7 linked regions of the Homo sapiens genome follow. The protein of the gene in region 3 purifies or fractionates together with the protein of the main gene of each other region. This does not show direct contact. Each region holds a gene or a part of one and is shown on either strand. Other genes may lie near its edges. The genes, in order: ADCY9, RRP1, LRRTM3, TMED8, NRXN3, CEBPZ and PEX11B.

What was found.
Region 1: the proteins of LRRTM3 (region 3) and ADCY9 purify together in Homo sapiens (affinity purification with mass spectrometry; one large-scale study listed by BioGRID and IntAct). This does not show direct contact.
Region 2: the proteins of LRRTM3 (region 3) and RRP1 purify together in Homo sapiens (co-immunoprecipitation; one large-scale study listed by IntAct). This does not show direct contact.
Region 4: the proteins of LRRTM3 (region 3) and TMED8 purify together in Homo sapiens (affinity purification with mass spectrometry; one large-scale study listed by BioGRID and IntAct). This does not show direct contact.
Region 5: the proteins of LRRTM3 (region 3) and NRXN3 purify together in Homo sapiens (affinity purification with mass spectrometry; one large-scale study listed by BioGRID and IntAct). This does not show direct contact.
Region 6: the proteins of LRRTM3 (region 3) and CEBPZ purify together in Homo sapiens (affinity purification with mass spectrometry; one large-scale study listed by BioGRID and IntAct). This does not show direct contact.
Region 7: the proteins of LRRTM3 (region 3) and PEX11B purify together in Homo sapiens (co-immunoprecipitation; one large-scale study listed by IntAct). This does not show direct contact.

What each region holds. Positions count from the first base shown.
Region 1 is NC_000016.10:4,106,443-4,109,942, reverse strand, and holds part of ADCY9 (adenylate cyclase type 9), read left to right. Parts: intron 1-3,500. UniProt on the Homo sapiens protein: Adenylyl cyclase that catalyzes the formation of the signaling molecule cAMP in response to activation of G protein-coupled receptors.
Region 2 is NC_000021.9:43,799,577-43,802,684, reverse strand, and holds part of RRP1 (ribosomal RNA processing protein 1 homolog A), read right to left. Parts: coding exon 3,036-3,108; intron 2,169-3,035; coding exon 2,071-2,168; intron 1,824-2,070; coding exon 1,804-1,823; intron 412-1,803; coding exon 298-411; intron 1-297. UniProt on the Homo sapiens protein: Plays a critical role in the generation of 28S rRNA.
Region 3 is NC_000010.11:66,932,536-66,936,035, reverse strand, and holds part of LRRTM3 (leucine-rich repeat transmembrane neuronal protein 3 precursor), read right to left. Parts: intron 1-3,500. UniProt on the Homo sapiens protein: Exhibits a limited synaptogenic activity in vitro, restricted to excitatory presynaptic differentiation. May play a role in the development and maintenance of the vertebrate nervous system.
Region 4 is NC_000014.9:77,339,095-77,342,594, forward strand, and holds part of TMED8 (protein TMED8), read right to left. Parts: intron 2,895-3,500; coding exon 2,677-2,894; 3' UTR 1-2,676.
Region 5 is NC_000014.9:78,705,373-78,708,872, reverse strand, and holds part of NRXN3 (neurexin 3), read right to left. Parts: intron 92-3,500; exon of another isoform or gene 1-91. UniProt on the Homo sapiens protein: Neuronal cell surface protein that may be involved in cell recognition and cell adhesion. May mediate intracellular signaling. Functions as part of a trans-synaptic complex by binding to cerebellins and postsynaptic GRID1.
Region 6 is NC_000002.12:37,214,597-37,218,096, reverse strand, and holds part of CEBPZ (CCAAT/enhancer-binding protein zeta), read left to right. Parts: intron 1-1,059; coding exon 1,060-1,113; intron 1,114-1,678; coding exon 1,679-1,781; intron 1,782-1,888; coding exon 1,889-1,957; exon of another isoform or gene 1,958-2,776; intron 2,777-3,144; coding exon 3,145-3,211; intron 3,212-3,500. UniProt on the Homo sapiens protein: Stimulates transcription from the HSP70 promoter.
Region 7 is NC_000001.11:145,913,284-145,915,717, forward strand, and holds part of PEX11B (peroxisomal membrane protein 11B), read right to left. Parts: intron 1-2,434. UniProt on the Homo sapiens protein: Involved in peroxisomal proliferation. May regulate peroxisome division by recruiting the dynamin-related GTPase DNM1L to the peroxisomal membrane. Promotes membrane protrusion and elongation on the peroxisomal surface.

The sequences.
Region 1 (3,500 bases), on a different chromosome or scaffold from region 3:
CAGGACAAGGAAGGCCATGGGTAGCGTGGGAAGGAGTTTGCATTTGACCCCATAGGTGTCAGGGAACCACTCAACAGGGGGCTTAGGTGATCTGACTTGCAGTTTTAGAAAGTTCACTCTTTCAGAGCTAGTGAGTGTGGGTTGGAAAGAGATTAATGAGGTGTCGAGTAAATCCCAGGTAGGGGTGATGGTGGCCCAATCCAAAGTTACAGTAGCAGTGATGGAGGTGATGGGATCTGAGTGGCATTAGGAAGAGCAGCTTGATGGGACTGCAAGCCAGATTTAAACAAACGACTGGCAGGAGGGGAAGGGCTTGACCATGTGAATGGGAAATGGCATTTTAAGTTTCTGGAAGTGACTTGGCGACAATGTGGAGTCAGGAATGGGTGAGGGGCCTTTGAAGTTGCTATGGTATGAATGGAGAATGCAGGATGGACTTGCAGAGTACAGAGGCCCGGAACCCCTGGCTTGCTTACTCATTCAGCAAATCATTTACTCCGTGCCAGGCACGGTTCTGGGTTCTGGCAATACAGCCGTAAACAAAACAGACAACAATTCCTGCTCTTGTAATAGGGGACAAGAATTTTTAAGTCAATAATATAGGAGGATCGCTGGAGCCCACGAGGTCGAGGTTGCAGAGAGCCGTGATTGCACCACTGCATTCCAGCCTGGGCGACAGAGTGAGACCCTGTCTCTAAGAAACAAAAACCAGGCCTTCAAATAGGGGAGATCTAATAGAGGGGACAACAGGGGAGTCAAACCATAAATAAGTAAAATAGAAAAAGTGTTTTGTGAACAAACATAAAGCAGGAAGGGGATACAGCAGATGGGGTGTACGAGTGTGAGAAATCTTATCTAGGGTGGCCAGTCACTGGGAGAAGGTTGCAGGAATTTTTAGCATACTGCTAGGATTTTGGAAATAATCTAAAAAGTGAGGGGCCAGGCATGGTGGCTCATGCCTGTAATCTCAACACTTTGGGAGGCCGAGGTAGGCGGATCACCTGAGGTCAGGAGTTTGAGACCAGCCTGGCCAACGTGGTGAAACCCCATATTTACTAAAAATACAAAAATTAACCAGGTGTGGTGGCAGGTACCTGTAATCCCAGCTACTCGGGATGCTGAGGCAGGAGAATTGCTTGAACCTGGGAGACGGAGGTTGCAGTGAGCCAAGATTGCACCATTGCACTCCAGCCTGGGCGACAAGAATGAGACCCTGTCTCAAAAAAAAAAAAAAAAGTGTGAGGGACAGTTATTAAAGATATGGAGAAATGGGCCGGGCGTGGTGGCTCATGCCTGTAATCCCAGCACTTTGGGAGACCGAGGTGGGCAGATCAGGAGGTCAGGAGTTTGAGACCAGCCTGACCAACATGGTGAAACCCTGTCTCTACTGAAAATGCAAAAATTGGCTGGGTGTGGTCGCAGGCGCCTTTAGTCCCAGCCACTTGGGAAGCTGAGGCAGGAGAATCGTTCGAACCCAGGAGGTGGAGTTTGCAGTGAGCCGAGATCGTGCCATTGCACTCCAGCCTGGGCGATAGGGCGAGACTTTGTCGCCAAAAAAAAAAAAAAAAAAAAAAAAAAAAAATGAAGAAACGGTCTGATTAAGGTGAGGGACCTTCCACAGCATTTGGGATGAAACCGCTAGGCCTGAGGGAACCGTGGCTGTTGTATTCTGCCTTGGGCCACAAGCAAAAAATGGTGAGACGTGTTATCTCGAGCTGTTGGCTTTTCCTGTCATAGATACAGGGTCACAAAGACAGAAAATGAAACTGTTAGAAAATATCTACAGGCATCTTCTTTTCCCGTGTAAATATTAGGAAGACAGAATGAAGATGCTCCTCCGCTCTCATCCACACCCATGGTCATATCTCTGAAGAGGGGAATACCAGGGAGTGATCACATTGTCAGATGCAGAAATTAAAAAAGCTTTTTTCCCCAGCCAAACTTTATGCTTGTGGAGCAACTTGGGGAGGAGACCCGCTGGTATGCATTTGGGCAGATTGTCACCTGTTGGCCACCTCTGTGATCGAGACCTTTGCCTTAGAGGAGTTCCTATGTAGACCCTGTCTGGTGGGCCGACAGACCGACAGTGGACGGAGGCATTCTGTATGCGTTAGCCTCTGCAAACAAACACCTGTCTCATGCCGGAAATCTGGGCGCCCCATTAACCCTGAGCACGGGCCTGCCAGCTGACAGAACCCTAGCCAGGTGTTGGTTTGGGGTTCAGTTGCATGCTCAGGTGTTCCCCTTCCTTCCCCCGTTAGCTTGTCCCCACCTAAGCCTGCAACCCTTGCCACTGGGATGCTAACCCGTTAGCAGAGCTCAGTCTCCTTGCTTGGAAATTCTGTGTTGACCTGCACTGCATTCTTTTTTTTTTTTTTTTTTTTTTTTTTTTGAGACAGAGTCTGGCTGTGTCACCCAGGCTGGAATGCCATGGCGTGATCTCAGCTTACTGCAACCTCTGCCTCCCAGGTTCAAGCGGTTCTCCTGCCTCAGCCTCCCAAATAGCTGGGATTACAGGTGTGCGCCACCACGCCCGGCTAATTTTTGTATTTTTAGTAGAGATGGGGTTTCACCATGTAGGCCAGGCCGGTCTTGAACTCCTGACCTCAGGTGATCCACCAGCCTCAGCCTCCCAAAGGGCTGGGATTACAGGCGTGAGCCACCACGCCCAGCCTTGACCTGCATTCTTGAGCAGGATCTGTTATGCACGTGGAAATACAGCCTCTCAGATAGCAAATGGCAGAGATGAGATGAGGCACACAGTTCCCCTCCACAGCTGGGGTGGGAGACAGAAAACAGCAGTAGAGTCGACACTCAAGCTGCCCCCAGTGACCATTTGTTCAGGCTCTTTGAGACCTGGCTTACAGTGACAAGGACACAGCTGTTAATTCTGAAGACAAGCTTTCGAGTAGAAGTAACCTCTGGTAAAGCAAGAGAAGGTTAAGGTTTGCTGAATTGCCAATGGGATGAAGAAGGAAGGGAGGGCTGTCTTTTCAGGTAGAATGCCTAAGGAAGGGAAACATGGAGAAGGAACAATTAGAGCAAGTCAAGAAGTTTCAAGATTTTTGTCTTCTGGCCAGCTTGGTGAGATAGTAATTATGTTTCTGCATATTGGTCAGCGTTGCCTATGTACTTTGCTGTGGAATAGTAATCTTGGAAAAAAACCAACCAACCAACCCACATTAATCTGTCCATGTCTGGGCACAGAGTGTGCAGAAGCCTGCGTGGGCCGTAAGTCTCGTCTTTGTCTTGGTTGGTGATTTTAGTATTGGTGTTTTTGCTGGAATTCCAAAACTGTAAGAGTGTAATCATTCACCATTAGAATTCTGCAGGTCCCCTCCTGACTCTGGACTAGCTGAGCTTAGGGGCCTGTCATCCATCTGGCCCTGGGCATATCATTTGTACTTTGCCTGTGACACACCTCAAGACCTTTTCCAACAGGAACTAGCATCCCTGGAGGGAATTTTGTGAAGAGATGAGAGTTTTTGAAACAGGAAGGG
Region 2 (3,108 bases), on a different chromosome or scaffold from region 3:
GACGGAGGCACGGAAGGAGGCAGCCCAGCCAGGAGGATGTCTCCAGACCGGGAGGGAGGGCAGCGCACACAGCTCGGGGGAGCTGCAGACAAGGAAGGTGGGTGGGGGAGGCAGGGAGAGGCCTACAGGAGGGATGCCGAGGACAGGGCATTTCCGGGATGCGTGGATAGCAGGCACCCAGGATGGGGGACTCGGCACTCATGCTTCAGGGGGAGACACTGCAGGTGACCCCCATCCAGGGGAGAAGCAAGCAGGTGAGGACGCCGGCTCCATGACTAACACACCCCCTAGTCCTACCTCTCTCCTGCTGCAACCTGAGCAGACGCTTCTGCTTCTTCGTCTTCTTCTGCCGCCTCCCTTCAAGCAGGCGCCTGCAGGCCTTCTCTGGGATCTCATCTTCAGGGAAAATGCCTGAGAACCAGGGCAGAAGTCAGGGGGCTCTCGGGGGCTGGGGACTTATGGTTTGAGGCTCGCTGCTTCCAGCAGGCCCCAGCCAGCACCACCTCCTGACAATGTGTGTGAGAAAGCGCCCTGTTCTAATGCCCAGGAGCAGCGTGTTCAGTACCCGCCACAGCTGAAACGAACCAGCTGAGACCCAAGCCCATCTGGAAAAGCCAGTTCCTGGAGCATCCAGGACACAGGTACAGCATAGAGCGTCCACGACCCCAAATGCCTGGGACCAGCAGTGCTTTGAATGTCAGGTTGTTTTGGAACGTCTGCATCATATTCACCAGTTCAACAGCCCTCACCTGAAAACCCCAAACAGAAAACACTGCGACGAGCATTTCCCTGGAGCTTCCTGTCAGCACTCAGCTTTGGACTTGGTGGCATTTTGGATTTGGGGTTTCAGATTAGAGACGCTCAACCTGTACACCAAAGTCTACAGCCTACAATGCTCATGCTGGCGGCCCAAGGCAACTTTCTGCATCAAAACCTGCCAGATGCACACGATCCTCACGCACCTCACTGACGCGCGCTGTCCCGAAAACCCCAGACGACCAGCCGGGCAACACAGCGAAACCCTGTCTCTACAAAAAATACAACAATTAGCCGGCGTGGTGGCGTGCGCCTGTGGTCCCAGCGACTGGGAGGCTGAGGCGGGAGGATCGCTTGAGACCAGGAGATCGAGGCTGCAGTGAGCTGCATCACACCACTGCACGCCATCCTGGGCAACAGAGCGAGACACCGCCTCAAAAAATAAAAAATAAAAAAACCAAACCCTGGACTACAGCTGATGACGCGCCCGCTGGCGGATGCAGGGGTGTGATGCTGGGATAGAGGAGCTTCACGCAAGGACAGGAAGTGCTGATGCTGGAGGCCGGCAGGGACACGCAGACATCCACTATAAAATCCTTCCAACTGAGTTGCAGGTCTGAAACTTTTCATAAGGAAACACCAGGGGAAACGCCTACGTCTCTAACCATCGACGCCCACTAGGAAACCGTCCTTCCGATAACCTATGCCAGTTCCATCCGCCACGCGCTGCCAAGAACAGACGTGTGCTGCCCAACAGACCAGCAGCAGCACCGCGGTCAGTGCTTGGGAGCCCCTGAGGCCAGCACCCCATCTCTCAGGCTCTGGGGCACTCCAATGGACACTCAAGTCTGAGAACCACTCAGCAAAAACCACAAAAACGAGAGCTGTGGAACCCTGCGCCCTGCCTCCCTGTCCCTCAGAAACACCACCAGGCCTCTCTGCAAAGAGACTCCACGTGCTATGAGACCCCTAGAACCAAACCACTCCCACGAGGATGGAGCTCCACCTCCAAGGTGGTGCCACTGTCAGTGCCCGGCCGATCCTCACCTCCTGCCAGGTCCTGCAGCCTGAAAGAGTAAGACAGATACCCACTTACCACAGCTGCGGCTTCCGCAGGAGGAGGAAGCTCCAGCTAGAGCGGCTGCAGGTTCCTAGCCAGGGGAACCCCAGGGGCTGGGGACGGTCTCAGGGTCCTAGCGGGGATCACCCCGGGGGCTGCGGAAGGGCCCAGGACAAGGCAAAGGCACCCAGATCTGAGCAAGAAAGGGCAACTCCAAGGGGAGCAGGGAGGACGCAGCGCCCTCACACACTCACTTCCGGATCACTTTGTAGAGACGCTTTCTGTTCTGAGAAGGGGTGCTCTGGCGGCTGGCCATTTCAAACAGTCTGTTAGCAACTGCCTCGTAGTCAAACTGTTTCAAAAGAGAGACGTCACAGAGGCAAGGTCAGCCACGCTCTGCGTGCTCCGAGAACGTGGAACCCCTGAGACCCAGATAGCACTTGGTCCCACTTGCAGGTTCTCCACCCGGCTCACAGGAACACAGCCCACCCTCACTGAGGGTCCTGCAGCTCCACCCACTCTACAGCACAGCGGGCACCACACAAGCTGCGGGCGCACTGCGGGGCACGCACTGCGGGGCACACTCTGGAAGATGCACACTGCGGGGCACACTGCAGGGCACACGCCCGCCGGTAGCCTGCCTGCAGCTTTACCACTCTAGGAACCACACAGACAAGCACGAACAACATAGGTTAAATTGATCAATTTTAACCCAAGATAGCCACATTTTATTCAGTCTGCAGATAATCATATTTAAAACTTAAAACATTTAAGTTTCCAATTTGCCTGAAGTCAGACCCCACTGGCTGAGTGGATTCCTCGCTGGGACCCACAGGCCAGCCGCTTGGCACATGCCATCTCATTCCCCACCAGCACCCCAACGAGGGGGCCGCAGGAAATCTGGGGGGCTGCCCATGTGTGAGGCAAGAGGACAGCGTGAGGTGAGGCCAGCCCTGGATAATGCAGTTCTGCCTGAGCCCACCCTCCCAGGCCCCAGCCCCACTTTCCCAGGCCCCAGCCCCACTCTCAATGATCCCACTCGTCTACAGGCGGGCAGGGTTGGGGCACCCATCCCTCCTTCAAAGCTAACCCCTGTCCGGGTAACTCTCCATGCCAACAGCTGCCATCCTCCCTCCTAACGCCCCCCTCCTCTTCCAGAGCAAGCGGTAGCACAGAGGGGCAAAGGCTGAGGGCACAGCCATGAGCCCAGGGAACCCACCTGGAGAACGGGGCCGCCACTGTCCCTGTCGTCACCTGCCTGCTCCTCACCAGCCTCAGGTTCAGCCCTGCAG
Region 3 (3,500 bases):
GCTGGAAGGAACACTATACTGGCAGATTAGACTTTAACTAGCAGAGGGATGTTCTAATGGTAAATCATCGGAAATTATTTCCTAAAGGGATCTGGAGATGCATGATTTGGCTTTGAGAAGCCTTTTGTGGGTGGGGTATAAATTATTTTAGAGCAGTCCTATAAAGAAGTGAAAATGTATAGGATTAATGAGTGAAACTTACAGGAAGACAGACTCAATATAAAGGGCTCTGTTCTTATATTTTAAGGAAAACTATCTGAGTTTACGAAACGCATAAAACACTTTTTATCAAATCATTAGATAATATATACAAATTCCTGGTACATAATAAGGACTCAATTATACCAAAATATCTTCACATTATAGGAAAAATATTCACCTAATAGGAAAATATATATATATTTTTTTAGGCATGTACAACATACGTACCTTGGTGGAAATACAAATACGTATGTAATATGTCCTCTGCCATATTAGAAAGATCTTTAAATATTCCATTTTAATCATAATTCAGTGATGTTACCTAACCCTCTATTGGTGCCAGTACACAAACCAAGTATTTATACCTTTCACATTAAAATTTTGAATACATTAGGCAAAATCCCTTTCATAAATTGACAAGTACATGCCAACACTAATCTCAAAGCGCTGAATTTTAAACTTCTTGGAGAGTTTTCACTATGGTAAACTTCCTAGAGTTTTCACCGTTATAACTATTTTCACTGTTGTACCTTAGAGAGGTTTCACTGTTGTAATCTTGTCACACATTTATCAGAATTTTAAAAGCTACTCTACTTTTTCAATATCAACATGATGCATTCTACAAGTTTCCTTTAAAGCTCTTGTGAGATTCTGGTTGACTGCATCAAATATTAATGAGGGAAACTTATAGGAAGACAGTCAATATGAGGGCTCTGTTGGTAAGCATATTCTTTCTTTTAGAAAGTACATAGATCAATATTAATGACAAGGAGCACTTTTTTAGCTACATGAGGGCCACCCAGTTGAAGCTATGAACACCACTCAAGGTAGCATAGCCTCATGATACTGTAGCTTCACTGTCTGATGACATTTTCATTCTGCTCCCACTTCATTAATAAGCTTTAGCACCAAGAATGCTGACTAAGGATTTACATTTAATTGAAGTCATTGCCTCCTTACTGACAAAATGTATTTTCCACCCTGCATAGATGTAATTGATGTGATGAAATGTCAACAAAAATTGCCTTTGCTAAATGTAGTATTTGCCTTACTATTTTATATGCCAGGCCAAAAAAACTATATTTTACCCTTGAGAAGACAAAATTCTGATTGTTGGAAAGAGTGTTTCTGATTGGTGAAATATAGTTGAGTACCCCTATACATAAAGTCCTATACTTTGTTTTCTAGGAATTAGCTAATTAAGGAGGAAAACAGTAAGCTTTAATACTTTGTAAGACTGTAATTCAACTATATATCCTGTTTTTTCAATTGCAAATCATAATATACTGTAGAGGTGTTTTATAGATTGTAGAGGAAAGAGAAGTGTCAGCCAGCTTTAAATTTGTTTTATGTCCTAATATTTAATGCAAGTGTGTAACTTTTCTTTTGGAGATAATGCTGCTCTTTTGAGCCAAATGACTGAATTGTGTTGGTTTATAAAGGAAGACATTTTTTGGTGATATAGGAATTACAGACTCTTTCAAATAAGGAGAACAATTTAAGAGTGAGAGAAAGGATAAATGAGAATCCTGATTGGGAGAAGTGAGAGCCCTTAAAAATAAAAAGAAAACATGGAGAATTGTTAATAAAGTTATTAATTATCATTACAACATTTGCTGGAAAGGATAAGATAGAAGCTGTTTTTCTTTTTTTTCAATAAAATGGATTATTATTGCTTATAGAAGTTCTGTTGTTAGAAAGTATAATTGTAAAATACATTGTACTTGCTTGGTCTTATATCATGTCCCAGATATTCCTGTTCTCTCTGTGTTCCTGGAATTTTCCTCACGTGTTCAGGATCCCTAACTCAAGAGCGTCCATTCATGACCCTATGAAGTTAAAATGTCAGAAAACTCACAACTGCTTCCCCACCTGAAAAACCATCATCCTCTCTCTGATCTTTAGATATGCCATAGGAACTCAGCTGTCAAAGAGGAACAGTCTGTGTCTTCTTAAATGACAAACATTTTGAAAATACACCTGCTACTTCATATTGGTAAGAGCAGCTACATCCAGCGGAGGAAGCCTTTTGTCATTCTTTGATGAATTAATGATGTAATTTTGCATAAGCAATGACATATAAAAGGAAGTCCCTGTACATTTATACCCCTTTTTATCCAGTGATTTTTCAATAATTATAATTGATAAAGTCAATAGTAATTTCTATACTAAGAGGAGATCTTGGGCACAGTCTTCCACTGGAGTGGCCAGGGGAGAAACATCAGAGCAGATATCATGTGACTGATACCTGGAATGCGTGCTAATCCTACAGTAACATGTTATATGCAATTACTTTTTGCTCAATAATGATGTCATGTTGCCATATAAACATTATATTGATCCAGTGTAAAGTCAACAAGGATTGAACACAATGATACTAGAAAGGGAGTGGACAGGTAAACGTCCTGATTGAAAGCCCTTGCTATAGTTGCCTGATCTGAAATACAAGTAGAATTTTCAATGTGTTTGATAATTATTTGTTTTAGTGTTCGCTGGTCGGTGTCTTTATGTCTGTTGTACATTGTGATAATCAGTATAAAAATCATAGACTTAGATAACATGAGGTGGAAGAAGCTGTGCCTATGTGAAAACAGAAAGTCAAAGACGATGTTCTAGACTTCTAATGATGTAAAATGGGCTTGGGGTTCTGTAACATGGAGGTTACTGATTTCTTTTTGGCTCATGCCAAACATAGAACAACAAACCCCACTCAGTATCTCACTAAGGGCTTTTTGAAAAGAAGAGGTAGTTGCCATTTTAGAGTTTACAAAGTACTTTTCACATTTCGTCCTCCCAATTACCATGAGCAGTCAATAGTACACATCTGTGTTACATATGAGAAACTTCAAATTCAGAAAAGCCAGGAAATGTACCTGTGATGACTTGATTAGCAAGTGTCAAAGGAACTTGAATTTAGGTCTTAATTTCTAAGGCCCGTATTCTACCATGCCTGGCTGTGATATTTCCCTCAAATGCAAAAGAATCATAAATTATTGTTATTTAGATTTTATTGGTAGTATTAAGTATCCAAAATCATCACCAACTTTTGGAGGCTAAAAGAATTTGGGTCCAATTCTGTAGGCTATTATGATTAGGAAAGCAGTGACTTTCACCTATGTATTATTATTATTTCTTTAATTCATTTTTAATTAGAGCTATTTGATACAAACTATTTAACATCCATCCATTTTATTTCTCTTAAAACTTGTGTCATTCAAATTTACCTATATATTCTGTTGTGCTCATTGTTTCCCCCAACTGCCTCTGATTTTTAGTGTAGGTAGCTAGGAGAATACAAC
Region 4 (3,500 bases), on a different chromosome or scaffold from region 3:
CTCTTAGAATTTGCTGGGCTGTGGGTTCTCAGTAATTACCTGTGCTTCAGTAAGTAGTATCTTGCCCCTAAAGTTCAATTATTTCAGAAATGTAACATGAAAATAGTGAATTAGACAGTGAAAATATCTTCTTTTAGCTATTTTGTGCTAATGGAACACAGAAACCCTGACAGTTGGTGAAAAACCAGTATGAATGAAATGTAACCATGCCCAGGACTTCAAAAGTGACCAGACCCTAAGAGGCACACAGAGGTGAGGGGAACAAGTCCCTTAGGCTTCCCTGATGCAACAGAACTAGGATTCCAAAGAAAATAAGCAGAGAATCTCATGGTGAAAATAAATAATAACAAGTGTTATCCTTGGGAGCTTGCTGTGTATGGCCTGACTGTTTCAATTTGAGAGAAAGGCAGAAGTTAATAATAAACAGGAAAAATAAGCAAGGCTTTAGCTGACTAGAAAACAGCTCAGTAGAAAATTATTTTACAAAGATTATATTCAGTTAGCTAAGGCATGATTCAACTTCAATGATGCAAGAGCGGTCACTCAGCTATCCAATGGGATGACACACAGCAAATCAGCTCTTCACTGCCTCAACAGACAGTCACTAAAATAATTTCTTTAAAGGTATATAAATGTTGGCCAGTGTAATCCTCTACAAAACACATTTGCAAATATAAAATAATGGAGGTATGATGCTGCTCAGAGAATGGGAATGCTCTGGCAGTCCCCAACATCCTATCCCACTTGGGGCTTTGCTCCGAGGGGAAGAGCAGGTGCAGGATATATTGCCCTTTGATGTGATGTAGATGCTACTAGGGACCCACTGGGAAGAGTCCCGTTCCTTGAGTTATGCTACTGTAGGGATAGACCCTTGGTGTGAGGAATCTAACAATGAGTCAAAGGAAACATCACAAAGAAGGTGACACCTCAGAGGAGACAAAGGACTCTGAAATCCTGGAATCACGGGATATCTCTGATTGGTTAGGGAATTCCTCTGCACTCAATCTCCAGCAAATGGGCAGATTCCCTCACAACTTAGAATTTTTCATGGGGAGTGCTGGACTGTACCCCAAACATGGAGTAAGGTGGCATCATCCATCTCTGAAGGGCCATACTCCTCGCAAAGCCGTCACAGGACTGACCTACAGAAATAAAACATCATCGCTTCCCAAATTCTCCTAAAAATATCATCTTTAACTCCATAAAAGAGGGGGCTTCAGTGGCTCAGAACAGATGGGAAGCCTTCTGAGAAACAGATGGAAACTGTTTCAAAGGCAAAATGAAATGTGCTAAAAAAATAAATACAGTAATAAATAAATCTAATTATTCTTCAGAATTCGTAGGCAGTAACAGACATAACACGAGGAGTAAGAGACAGGGAGGTACAAACACAGAGACTGCTGAGGTCCCATCTCACCTCCGTCTCCTCCTCCGCCTGGGGGCCCAGCAGCTGGTGCTCTGGTGACCACTGGCTGCAGCACTACCTGCACTCTGTGGCACTCCTGAGCCTCAGGGGTGACACAGTAGGAAATGCTGTCACCAGGGAAATGCAAGCTTTGGTCAGGTAAAGAACAAATACAATCAGCAGCAATAGTGAAGCTTCATTATCACCTAAACTAAGGGACTTTGAACACCAAAAGCTTTAAGCCCTCAATGCAAGAAAGCTAAATGCAGAAACTTTGGAAACCTGATTGGGTTTCACTGCATTTGATTCCAAAGCAACATTTCTAAACAGCACTCCTACTCTAAAGACAAAAAAAAGCGGTGGGGACTCTGGAGTGTTTTTTGTTTTTCATCTTCTCTGTCAGATGATACCATTCCTTCTTTGATTATACCAAAAAAAAAAAAAAAAGTAACACGACTTTCAAATATGTGGGTTCTGACATCAATTCAGTACCTAATTTCCACTCTCTCCACTTTGACTGCCAGTGCCCATAGTAAGGGAAACCAGCTCTTGGAATAGGAAATAATGGGGGCAGTTTTTCTTCCCACAAGATCTTAGGTTACATTGATCATCACTTGAGATTGCATGAATGTTCTTGCTGTAATGGCAAAAACATAGACTTAGGAAAGAGAAAGGAGGGGGTGTCTACCATCAGGAATAGTAATAGCCCTCCAAAGGCAGTGTGGTCTCCCAGCTATGCAGAGACCAAGAATAACCAGCAGGCAGGAATATGGCAGTGGTGACAGGCTGGATAGAGCTTTCTCCAACCAAAAGATGGGGCTCCTTCATGGGCAATGTGCTTTTCCCTCTTCTGGCACCTCAACAACTGAAGAGAGTGGGTGCCACTAAATGCACTGGCAATAAGGGCTGTGGGAGAGGAGAGGGCAGCAATCTGAATGATAAACCTGTGCCAAGATGAATCTATTTTTAAAAAACATCGCCCTGCTTCCTTTTAGGCTTGTGCCCCATAGGTGCCTTCAAGAGGGAATTTGCTGGAGTCTGAAGCAAGAAGGGTATGAGTCAGGGACTACAGAACAGGGGCACTACACCACCACCTGCAGAAGCCAAGAAGGGGAAAAAGCTACGTGGGCCAACAGTCAGGCATGCCAGACAGGGTGTGAGGCTCAGCAGCCCCCCATGAACCTTTGGCTCTTGCCTATCCCAAACAAGAGGCACCAGCTGGCAGCCTGCTTCAGCCAGCAAATACAGCCTGCCCCTGTCCCAGCAGTCCTTCAGCTGGTGTAGTAGATGTGGAAGTAGAGAGTCTTGTTGCGCAGCAGGGAGTAGGAGTTGTCGAACTTGAGCAGGTAGATGCCCTCACCAGGGTAGTCATGGCTGCCAGCCTGCACGTCTCGGTGGCTGTCCCGCCGGTACACAGGCATGACCTCCCCATAGCGACCCCGCAAGGAGCTCCTGGAGCCTCTCTCCACATCTCCAGCTGGAACGGGTTCTGCGTGAGCAAAATGGCAAAGTGTTCAGAGACTGCGTAAGTCCTGCCTGAAGGTGAGCGGAAGGACCAGGTGACCCAGTGGCTTTCACAGAGCGGGGAGATTATTGCCCTCCTACAGACATTTGGAAATGTCTGGTGATCTTTTGGTCATCACAGTGACTATTAGGTGATATCTGCATTTAGTACCCAAGGGTCCAGGAGTGCTAAAATCAGGATAGTACCTACACAACAAACAATGTCCCATCCCAAATGCCAATAATGTCTCCACTGAGAAAATGATTTAGCCTGAGAGGAGCCTTCCTAGCTTCAGAAGTGTCTGGACATTTCTGAGAGGGAGAAAGAGATATTTAGAAGAAAAGATCCCGATATTCTATCATTTAGTAGGTGAAAGGACTAGCTAACGAAGATAGGAATTGCAGATAAACGTGCTATAAAGTGACCCTAGGATTCCTGAAAAGCAGCAAATAAGATACAAGGTTCTCCGCTTTCCCAGATACCTGTAGGTTTCCCTGCCCGCTTGCTGTTCTATGAAGAAGCACGTTAAAGGACTGACTTTAAGATTATATAAGAAAATCAAGGAATAAGAGGAATAAGACTAATGCTTAG
Region 5 (3,500 bases), on a different chromosome or scaffold from region 3:
CCTTAGTAAAATACCAGAAACAACCTAAATGACCATCAATAGCAGATGGCACAGCGTTATAATGGAATATTAGGCAGGCCTTGCAAACAAGGTATTGCTTTTGGTTTTGATGTGGAAGCTCTCCAGGTCACATTGTTAAGTGAAATTGTCAAGGAACAGGATAGAGGGTGCATTATGTTATCATTGTGTAAAAGTGTGGGGGCGTGGGGGCATTATATGTATATATGCTCCAGTAAGCATAAAGTCTCTTTGGAACTATAAAATTGTCATTGGGGAGTATATTTGCGGGATTAATATTCTGGAGTGGGAGGGTGACTTACTTTTCACTGTGCCCTCTTACAGTGTTAGACTTTTTTTCAACCATGTGGATATATTACTTGAAAGAAAAGAGTAAGTGTTAAAAGCTGGTGGGGACAGAGGTCTGTTTTTGTTTTTATTTTTTGCACATTGCATGTGCCCTCTGTACAGTGGTAGAATGAGACACCCTGAAGCCCTATTTCAGCCAGTCAGTCAAGGACATTGATTTAGTTGAGAGTCTGATTTTACAAAGAATACTGAACCAGATACTAATTCACCTTGCAAGGGGGTCCAGCAGAGCTTTCTGCCTCCATGCCCTACCCAAGGTTAGTGTACACTTCTGCAAAGCCATGGCCACTGTCCTGCAGAGTGGGTAGGTAGGTGGAGAACGTGAGGATGGCAGTTAAAAAAATCTGTTATGACTGTCTAACAGCCACTATGGAAAACAGTGTGGAGATCCCTTAAAGAACTAAAAGTAGAACTACCATTTGATCCAGCAATCCCACTACTGGGTATCTACCCAGAGGAAAAGAAGTCATTATAAGAAAAAGATACTTGCACAGGCATGTGTATAGCAGCACAATTTCCAATTGCAAAATTGTGGAACCAACCCAAACGTTCATCAATCAACAAGTGGATCAAGAAAATGTGATATATATATATGAATACTACTCAGCCATAAAAAGGAATGAATTAATGGCATTTGCAGTGACCTGGATAAGACTGGAAACTATTATTCTAAGTGAAGTAACTCAGGAATGGAAAACCGAACATTGTATGTTCTCACTGATATGTGGGAGCTAAGCTATGAAGACGCAAAGGCATAAGAATGATACATGGACTTTGGGGACTTGAGGGGAAGGGTGTGATGAGGGTGAGGAATAAAAGACTACAAATAGGGTGCAGTGTATACTGCTTGGGTGATGAGTGCACCAAAATCGCACAAATAACCACTTAAGAACTTATTCATGTAACCAAACACCACCTGAACCCCAATAACCTATGGGAAAAAAATCTGTTATGACTTTCTAAACCAGGTATAATCCATCTAAAAGCAGAAATTAATCTTTCTCCATGAAATTAGAATTTCAAAAAAGTTTTACTCTTATTTGAACTGAAATTTGATACAGTACCCTGGAATGGTTTTTGGCGCTCTGATCTCTGAGCAATGTCGTATCCATAAAAACTTAATAAGCAGAAAACAATGGAAGGGAAATAGACAAGGATCTGAGTATTGAGCGTCCCAACTATTTTCCTATTTTCTTTATATTACCTTATTCAAATTCTAAGTCAGGACCCAGATTTAGGTTTGAATTCCACATTTACTACTTACAAGCTATGTGACTTTGGCAAAGTAAATTTTCTGAGTCTGTTTCCTCTCCTGAAATTGGGAACATAGGAATAAACAAACTATTTATTTTGTAATAATAAAATGATTTAAAACATGTGAAGCACTTAGGAATGCAATATCATAAGGGCACAAAAGTCGCAGCTATTTGGAGGGTTATTGTTAATCTCATTTCGCTATTTCCACAGCCCTGAAAAGGTTGCATTATCATCTCCAAAACAACAATGGCTAATTTCTAAAATAAGCCTCATCTGTCCATATCTGTGAGACAAAGTTAATTGGATGGGTCACTCCAGCACATATCATATAATCCCCAATATTTAAATGTAGAATTAGTTCCCATCTCTCATCACCAGGAGAGAATCAAGCAAAGCTGTTTGCATTCTAATGGATATTACAAGAGTGATATATAACTATGGCGAAGCATTGAAAATGACTCACTATTATGTAACCTTGACCGTGGACCTAACCATAGTCAATAACATTGAAAATAATGATACTAACACTTATTAAGCACCTACCACCAGGCACCATGGTAAGGATTTAACACCTCTCCATCCCATTAGATACAGACAACACCCATTTGAGATACCTGTAATCATTGCCTTATTTTACAGATGCAGAAACAGACACAGAGAGCAGTTAGGGAACCGGCCCACAGGCACACAGCTGATAAGTGGCAGAGCAGGACTTGAACCTAGGCATTTGGGCCCCAGGGTCCATATGCTCAGAACCAGGCCCCACTAGCAGCACCTGTGAGGCTTATCTTTAACATTACATGGAAAGTCATGCATGCTCAACTTCACAATTCAAAAGCTGAATTTTTCATTTTAGCTAAACTGGGCTGACCATGTGCAAAGGGAAATATTGCAGGATCCTCAGGCAATCACTCAAGTGAGTAAACCAGAAAAGAAATCATAAAAGTTTAATGAGTGTCAGCTTCTCCTTTCTAACCTTCACTATTATACCTTAGCATGTGAGAACTCTTTGTCATAAACAAACTTTGGCTTTTTCTGCATTTGGGTTAAATGCCTGTGACTAGAGTTCCTAGTAAAGGTTAATTATTAATGTATAACAATAGGTCATCCCAAAGGGACAGAAGGAGGTTTGGCTCCATGGAACAATAAATAGAAAGAGAGATCAGGCATTGCTACAGCAGGCTGGGGACAGAATAAAAAGGAGGGAAAAAAAAGCCTTTTAACAAGATACAAGAGCAGTGAAGAGGAACTCTTCTGTGAGAAGGGTACCTAACTGAGACTGGGAGAGAAGGTGAATAGCCGGAATGAAGATTTCTGAAGACATAGGTAAGAGAAGCAAGGGCCAGAAACTGGCCAGACAGAGATAACCAGACTTCTCTCAAAGGCTCTTTGAGGGTGAGTGCTCTATCTACTCCATGGCCCTGAAATTACCTGTCTATTTATATGGAGTTTTCACTGTTGTGAATAAAAAGCCAACACCACTCTCACTGACAGCTGAATAACCCTTCTGAGTCCCATTTTATTTATTCCAAAGGTAAGAGCCTCGATATCTGTTCCACAAACTGTCCCTCTTTCCCAGCTCACAGGGCTGTTGTCAAGATCAAGTGGGATGTTAGACATAGTAGGACACAGACAATTCTAAACCGGCACACAAACCTAGGAAGAAATAATCCTATATCTTCATCTCCCATGGTGTTGGGGTTCTGTTGGAAATGGATAGGGTCCTGAATTGAGGTTCTGTGAAGGTTTATCTACCAAGAGGAAAAGGACAGGAGGGCAAGGGACTTGTAGCCCAGTGATGCTCAACTGGGACTCTCCATTGTTAATATCTTCACCTTCCCCACCTGCTCTGTGCAGAACCACAGCCACAGCCACGC
Region 6 (3,500 bases), on a different chromosome or scaffold from region 3:
ACGGGGTTTCACCGTGTTAGCCAGGATGGTCTCGATCTCCTGACCTCGTGATCCGCCCGCCTCGGCCTCCCAAAATGCTGGGATTACAGGCATGAGCCACCTCGCCTGGCTGCATAATTATTTTTCATAAATATGCTACTTACTAGTATGTAGTAGCTTTATGGTTTTTGTTTTTGTTTTTTGTTTTTTTTTTTTGAGACAGAGTCTTGCTCTGTTGCCTAGGCCAGAGTGCAGTGGCGCGATCTCGGCTCACTCCAAGTTCCGCCTCCCAGGTTCACACCATTCTCCTGCCTCAGCCTCCCGAGTAGCTGGGACTACAGGCACCCGCCACCACGCCCGGCTAATTTTTTGTATTTTTAGTAGAGATGGGGTTTCACCATGTTAGCCAGGATGGTCTCGATCTCCTGACCTCGTGATCCGCCCACCTCAGCCTCCCAAGGTGCTGGGATTACAGGCATGAGCCACCGCGCCTGGCCGCTTTATTGTTATTTTTAATGGACCTATAAGTATTTACAATTTTTCTGTTTATTTTTATAACATAGGTGTCTGTAGATATAAACCTGTTGAATAGAAACTGATGGAATTTTTGGTTTTTAAGTGTAGGAAATGGTCCTGAGACCAATATGTTTTGAGAATCACTTTTTTAATGTATTGGCTTAAATTTCAAATTTTTGCATTTTCATTTTTGTTGTTGTTGAAATAGGGTCTCACTCTGTCACCCAGGCTGGAGTGCAGTGGTGCCATGTCAGCTCACTGCAGCCTCGACCTCCTGGGCCCAGGCAGTCCTCCCACTTTAGCCTCCTGAGTAGCTGGGAGTACAGGCACGCGCGCACCATCACACCCTGACTATTTTTGTACTTTTTGTAGACATGGGGTTTCGCCATATTGCCCAGGCCAGTCTCAACTTCTGGGCTCAAGCAATCTGCCTGCCTGAGCCTCCCAAAGTGCTGGAATTACAGGTGTGAGCCACCACACCCAGCCCGATTTTCTTAAATAAGCTATAAATGTACTAAGAGTCGACCTTAGAAATATTGATATTATTCACATTTTTCTTTTTAGTTATCTGTGCATTTTCATCCCTCCGTGGCCCTTTTTGCAAAGACCATCCTTCAGGTGAGTCTAAAATAAATCCAAAGATGAGAAATAAGAAAAAAAGTATCATTTTAGATAATCAATAATTGGTCATACAGTGTTTTCTCTAACAGAGAGAATCTTGTACATTTTACTGCTCGTATAAAGAAGCAGTGACTTGTTTCATACAGAGTAGCAGATAACTTTTCCCACTCTGAGATGAGTGGAAGCAATAAGACATTGAAAGCCACGCAGTTATTTATTTATTACCTTCTAGCTCCTCTCCTGGAGAAATACTGCCTCACTTTCCCATTTGCTGTGTTTGCCACTTCAGGGTTTGGTTCCTGATTAATGGTTAGATGGCCTGCATTATTAATATTAGTCTATCCATCAAATCAACATTACATCCTAGAATATGTATGTATATGTATCTGTGTGTTTAATTTTTTAAGTATAATGTGCATGAGAGAGATATTTGAAGAGTCATTTATTGCATATTTGTATCTTCAATACAGTGTAATAGAAATTATCTTTTTCTTCCTTTTTCTTACTTGGATTCATAGACATAATTTGAATTAAGTTTTTAAATCCCCGCTCCACTTTTCAGGGAAACTATATTCAGTATTCAGGGGACCCACTGCAGGATTTCACTCTAATGAGATTTTTGGATCGATTTGTATACCGAAATCCAAAGCCCCATAAAGGCAAAGGTATGCTTCTATTTAGTGAATTATTTGGCTTTCATTTTTAATACATAATAAACAATATGAGCTTATAACTAGGTTTTGCATTATACTGTCATAATTTTACATTTCAGAAAACACAGATAGTGTTGTGATGCAGCCGAAAAGAAAACATTTTATTAAGGATATTCGTCATCTTCCTGGTAAGTATAAACCTTAGACAGTTGAAACTGAAAAGACAATATAAGACAAAGATGCATAAATTGTATTATTCTTTGTTCTAATTTATCAGAATAAAACCTGAGCATCAAAGACATTATCCATCTTTTTTCCCAAGAATAGGTATTCTTAAATCTACTGTATCTGACTGGGCCTTTTTTTTTTTTTTTTTAACTTTATTACAGCAAATTTGAAACATATCCAAAATAAACAAAATAGTATGATGAACCCCCTCCCCATTACCATCACCCAGCTTTGACAGTTGTCACCATTTTATCATCCGTAGCTTCATCCACAACCCCTATGTATATAATTATTATTGCTTACAATTCAGACCATCTTAAAGCTCTCTAATATCAGCTTAGCAGCACAAAAACCCACAGCTGGTTTTGTCACAGAGCATCATTTTAAACTTAATAACCTACTTCTATATTTGCTAGCCATCTTCTGGATCTGAGTCTGTTGTTGTATTCAAAGCAGACATTTCTTTGCATACCAGATCTCATCTCCCTTTTGTTCAGAGACCAGGATTAAATTAGACCTTATAGATCATTTAATTTCCAGTGACTTACTTCACAGAGGTCCAGAGATGTAAAAGGACTTACCCACAGTTAGTAAGTTAGAATTAAAAGCCAAATCTCCTTTTACTCAGGATGAGTCAGCAATTTTTATTCTGAAGAGGTAAAACTGATTTCTTGTAGTTCCTTATTTCTTAGTTTTCCTCAGTATAAAGGAAAACTCTGTTAACTTCCTGTTTATTCCCAGAATGGCACGCATTAATGGCAAGCTTGTCATTTTTTGAGCTGAAAATGACAAGTTTAAAGTGATTATTTATTAAAATAACTCTTTGAATTTTTTATTTCTCTTGAAAGTTGGGTCCTGGATGCAAATGAAGAACAGTAAGAGAACCCTGTTGTTTCACTGTAACGGCACTGACAGCTATGTACTGCCTACTTTATGCTGTAGCCAGTGAAGTTTCAAATGTTGGGGGGGTCTTCACACAGACTTTTTCAGAGATTGTCCCTTGCACTCCAGAGTCCCTTCTGTCTACCTTCCCACACAATTCTGAGATTTTTAGAATTACAGATTATGCTGTATTTTGTCTTAAGAGCTTGAGTAACATAAAGGGGATTGCTATATGAAGTTAAAATGTTTAAATTTATTTTTGTAGTGAACAGTAAGGAGTTCCTTGCAAAAGAAGAAAGCCAAATACCAGTGGATGAAGTGTTTTTCCACAGGTACTATACATAATATAGTTTCATTTGGGGAAACTGCTAAAATTTAAATTTTTAGATTTCATAAAATGCTTCATTTTATGAAATAATCTACTTCAATAATCTACTACTGTGTGTAAATAGACCATGGAACATTAGTGGGAGAAGTGGCCTTAGTTTTAAATGCTTCATTTTATGAAATCTAATCAGCATATTTTGAAAAGATCAAAGGATATGTCTGTGTTTGTTAAGAAAATTTACAAATCCGTCATTTTGCTAATCTTAATATATCTTAGTAAAACTAAAGTAAATT
Region 7 (2,434 bases), on a different chromosome or scaffold from region 3:
CCAGGAAGGTAGATCTTAAGTGTTCTTACCATAAAAGAAAAAAGGTAATTATGTGAGGTGATGGATATGTTAATTAGCTTGACTGTGGTGATCATGTCACAACGTACATGTACAAACATCGAGCTATAACTCCTTAAATATATGTAATTTCTATTTGTCAATTATGTCCCAATAAAAATGAAGAAACAAAGTCCTCCCAACATTCTGTAACTAATACATGTTTATGTGCACCTTAAGATCCTGGTTTAAACTCCATGAGCATCATGAAATCTTCCAAGGTCAATCTCAAATTTCATTTTCCACTTGGCAACACACACACACACACACACACACACACACACACACTCTCCATCTCTCTCTCAACTTGACCTATAACAAGGCAAACTTGTTTTGAAAGAACAAATTTCAGATGTCTCAGAGACTCAAACATATTAAAGGTGATCTAAATCCAATCCCTATTCCTTTAGAGGCCCAGAGGTTTAAGTAATTGCCAAATGTGTTAAATTATAAATTTCTTCAGTAAAAAATCCATGTTTTTTATTTGTAATCCAATCTGACAATGGTGGTCTGTACTCAATAACTTGTACTACCTTCAAAGTATATCCTGAACCCAACCAACCACATCTCTCTATCACACCGCACTGCCATACTCTAAGCCACTAACATCTCTTGTCTGGACTTCTGCTTTAATGTTTTAACTGGTCTCACTGTGGCCATTGTTGCCCCCACCCCCAACAATCTATTTTCATATAATAGCTAGCATAAACATAAATCACATCATTACTTCCCTTCTTAAAACTCTCCATGGTTGGCCAGGCGTGGTGGCTCACGCCTATAATCCCAGCACTTCGGGAGGTGGAGGCAAGTGGATCATGAGGTCAGGAGTTGGAGACTAGCCTGACCAACGTGGTGAAACCCTGTCTCTACTAAAAATACAAAAATTAGCTGGGTGTGGTGGCGCGTGCCTGTAATCCCAGCTACTCAGGAGGCTGAGGCAGCAGAATCACTTGAACCCAAGAGATGGACGTTGCAGTGAGCTGAGATTGCACCATTGCGCTCCAGCCTGGGCGACAGAGCAAGACTCCATCTCAAAAAAAAAAAAAACCAAAAACAAATAAACAAACCACAGCTCTCCATGGTTTTCTTCCTGTCACATTCATAATAAAATATAAATACCTTAGAGAGGCTTACAGACTCAACATCTGGTCCCTACCCCTCTAACTTTACCTTGTATCATTCTTTCCTGCAATCATTATGCTCCAACCATGTTGGTTTCCTTCTACATTTTAATCCCATCAAGCTTGTTCTTGCCTTAGGACCTTTGCACTACCTATTCCCTCTACCTGGAATATTCTCCCTCCACCTGGAATATTCTCCCTCCAAAACCCTCACATAGCTAGCTCTTTCTTGCTCTTCAGGTATGAGCTTAAGTATCACCTCTTCGGAGACGCCTTCCCTTATCCCTAAATCTAAAGCACTGAGTCAGTTACTCTCTACTCCATAACACTGTTTTAATTTCCTGCATAACATTTACCAGTATCTGATATTTTAATTTATTGTTTATTTATGTTTATCTCATCCCATTACAAGGTAAGTTCCAGAGGAGCAGAGGCCTTGTTTGTCTTTTCTTTTTTTTTGAGACGGTATTTCACTGTTGTTGCCCAGGCTAGAGTACAATGGCACGATCTCGGCTCACCACAAACTCTGCCTCCCGGGTTCAAGCGATTCTCCTGCCTCAACCTCCCGAGTAGCTGGGATTACAGGCATGCGCCACCACACCCGGCTAATTTTGTATTTTTAGTAGAGACGGGGTTTCTCCATGCCGGTCAGGCTGGTCTCAAAACTCCTGACCTCAGGTGATCCGCCCGCCTTGGCCTCCCAAAGTGCTGGGATTACAGGCATGAGCCACCGCACCTGGCCGGCCTTGTTTATCTTTAACCACTGTATCCCTGTATGTACACTGGTGCCTACCATATAGTAAGAGCTCAGTAAGTATCTGTTGGATGAAATGAATAAATATAACATATAGACTCCTTTAGGGAGTTGCTTTTCCATACTGCTCCAGCCATGCCTCTGCTCCCACCCCTCATACATCATAAGCCATGTTAAAGTTGTAAATCACTGAGAAAGATGAAGGGAAAAGCAAGGTTAATATAATGAAAAAGTACAATCATAGGAAAACGAAAAACAATACAGATAATATGTTAGAGAATTTTACTCCCACATCATATTTCTCTCTACCTTTATTGTCAGCTACCTCCTTTGTCCAAGCCAACGTCATCTCTTGCTCGTATTAGGGCATCTCCTCCTCTCTTGACCCACTGCAATCCATTTTCTTTTCTTTTCTTTTCTTTTTTTTTTTTTTTTGAGATGGAGTCTTGCTCTTGTCACCTAGGCTGGAGTGCAATAGCACGATCTCGGCTCACTGCAACCT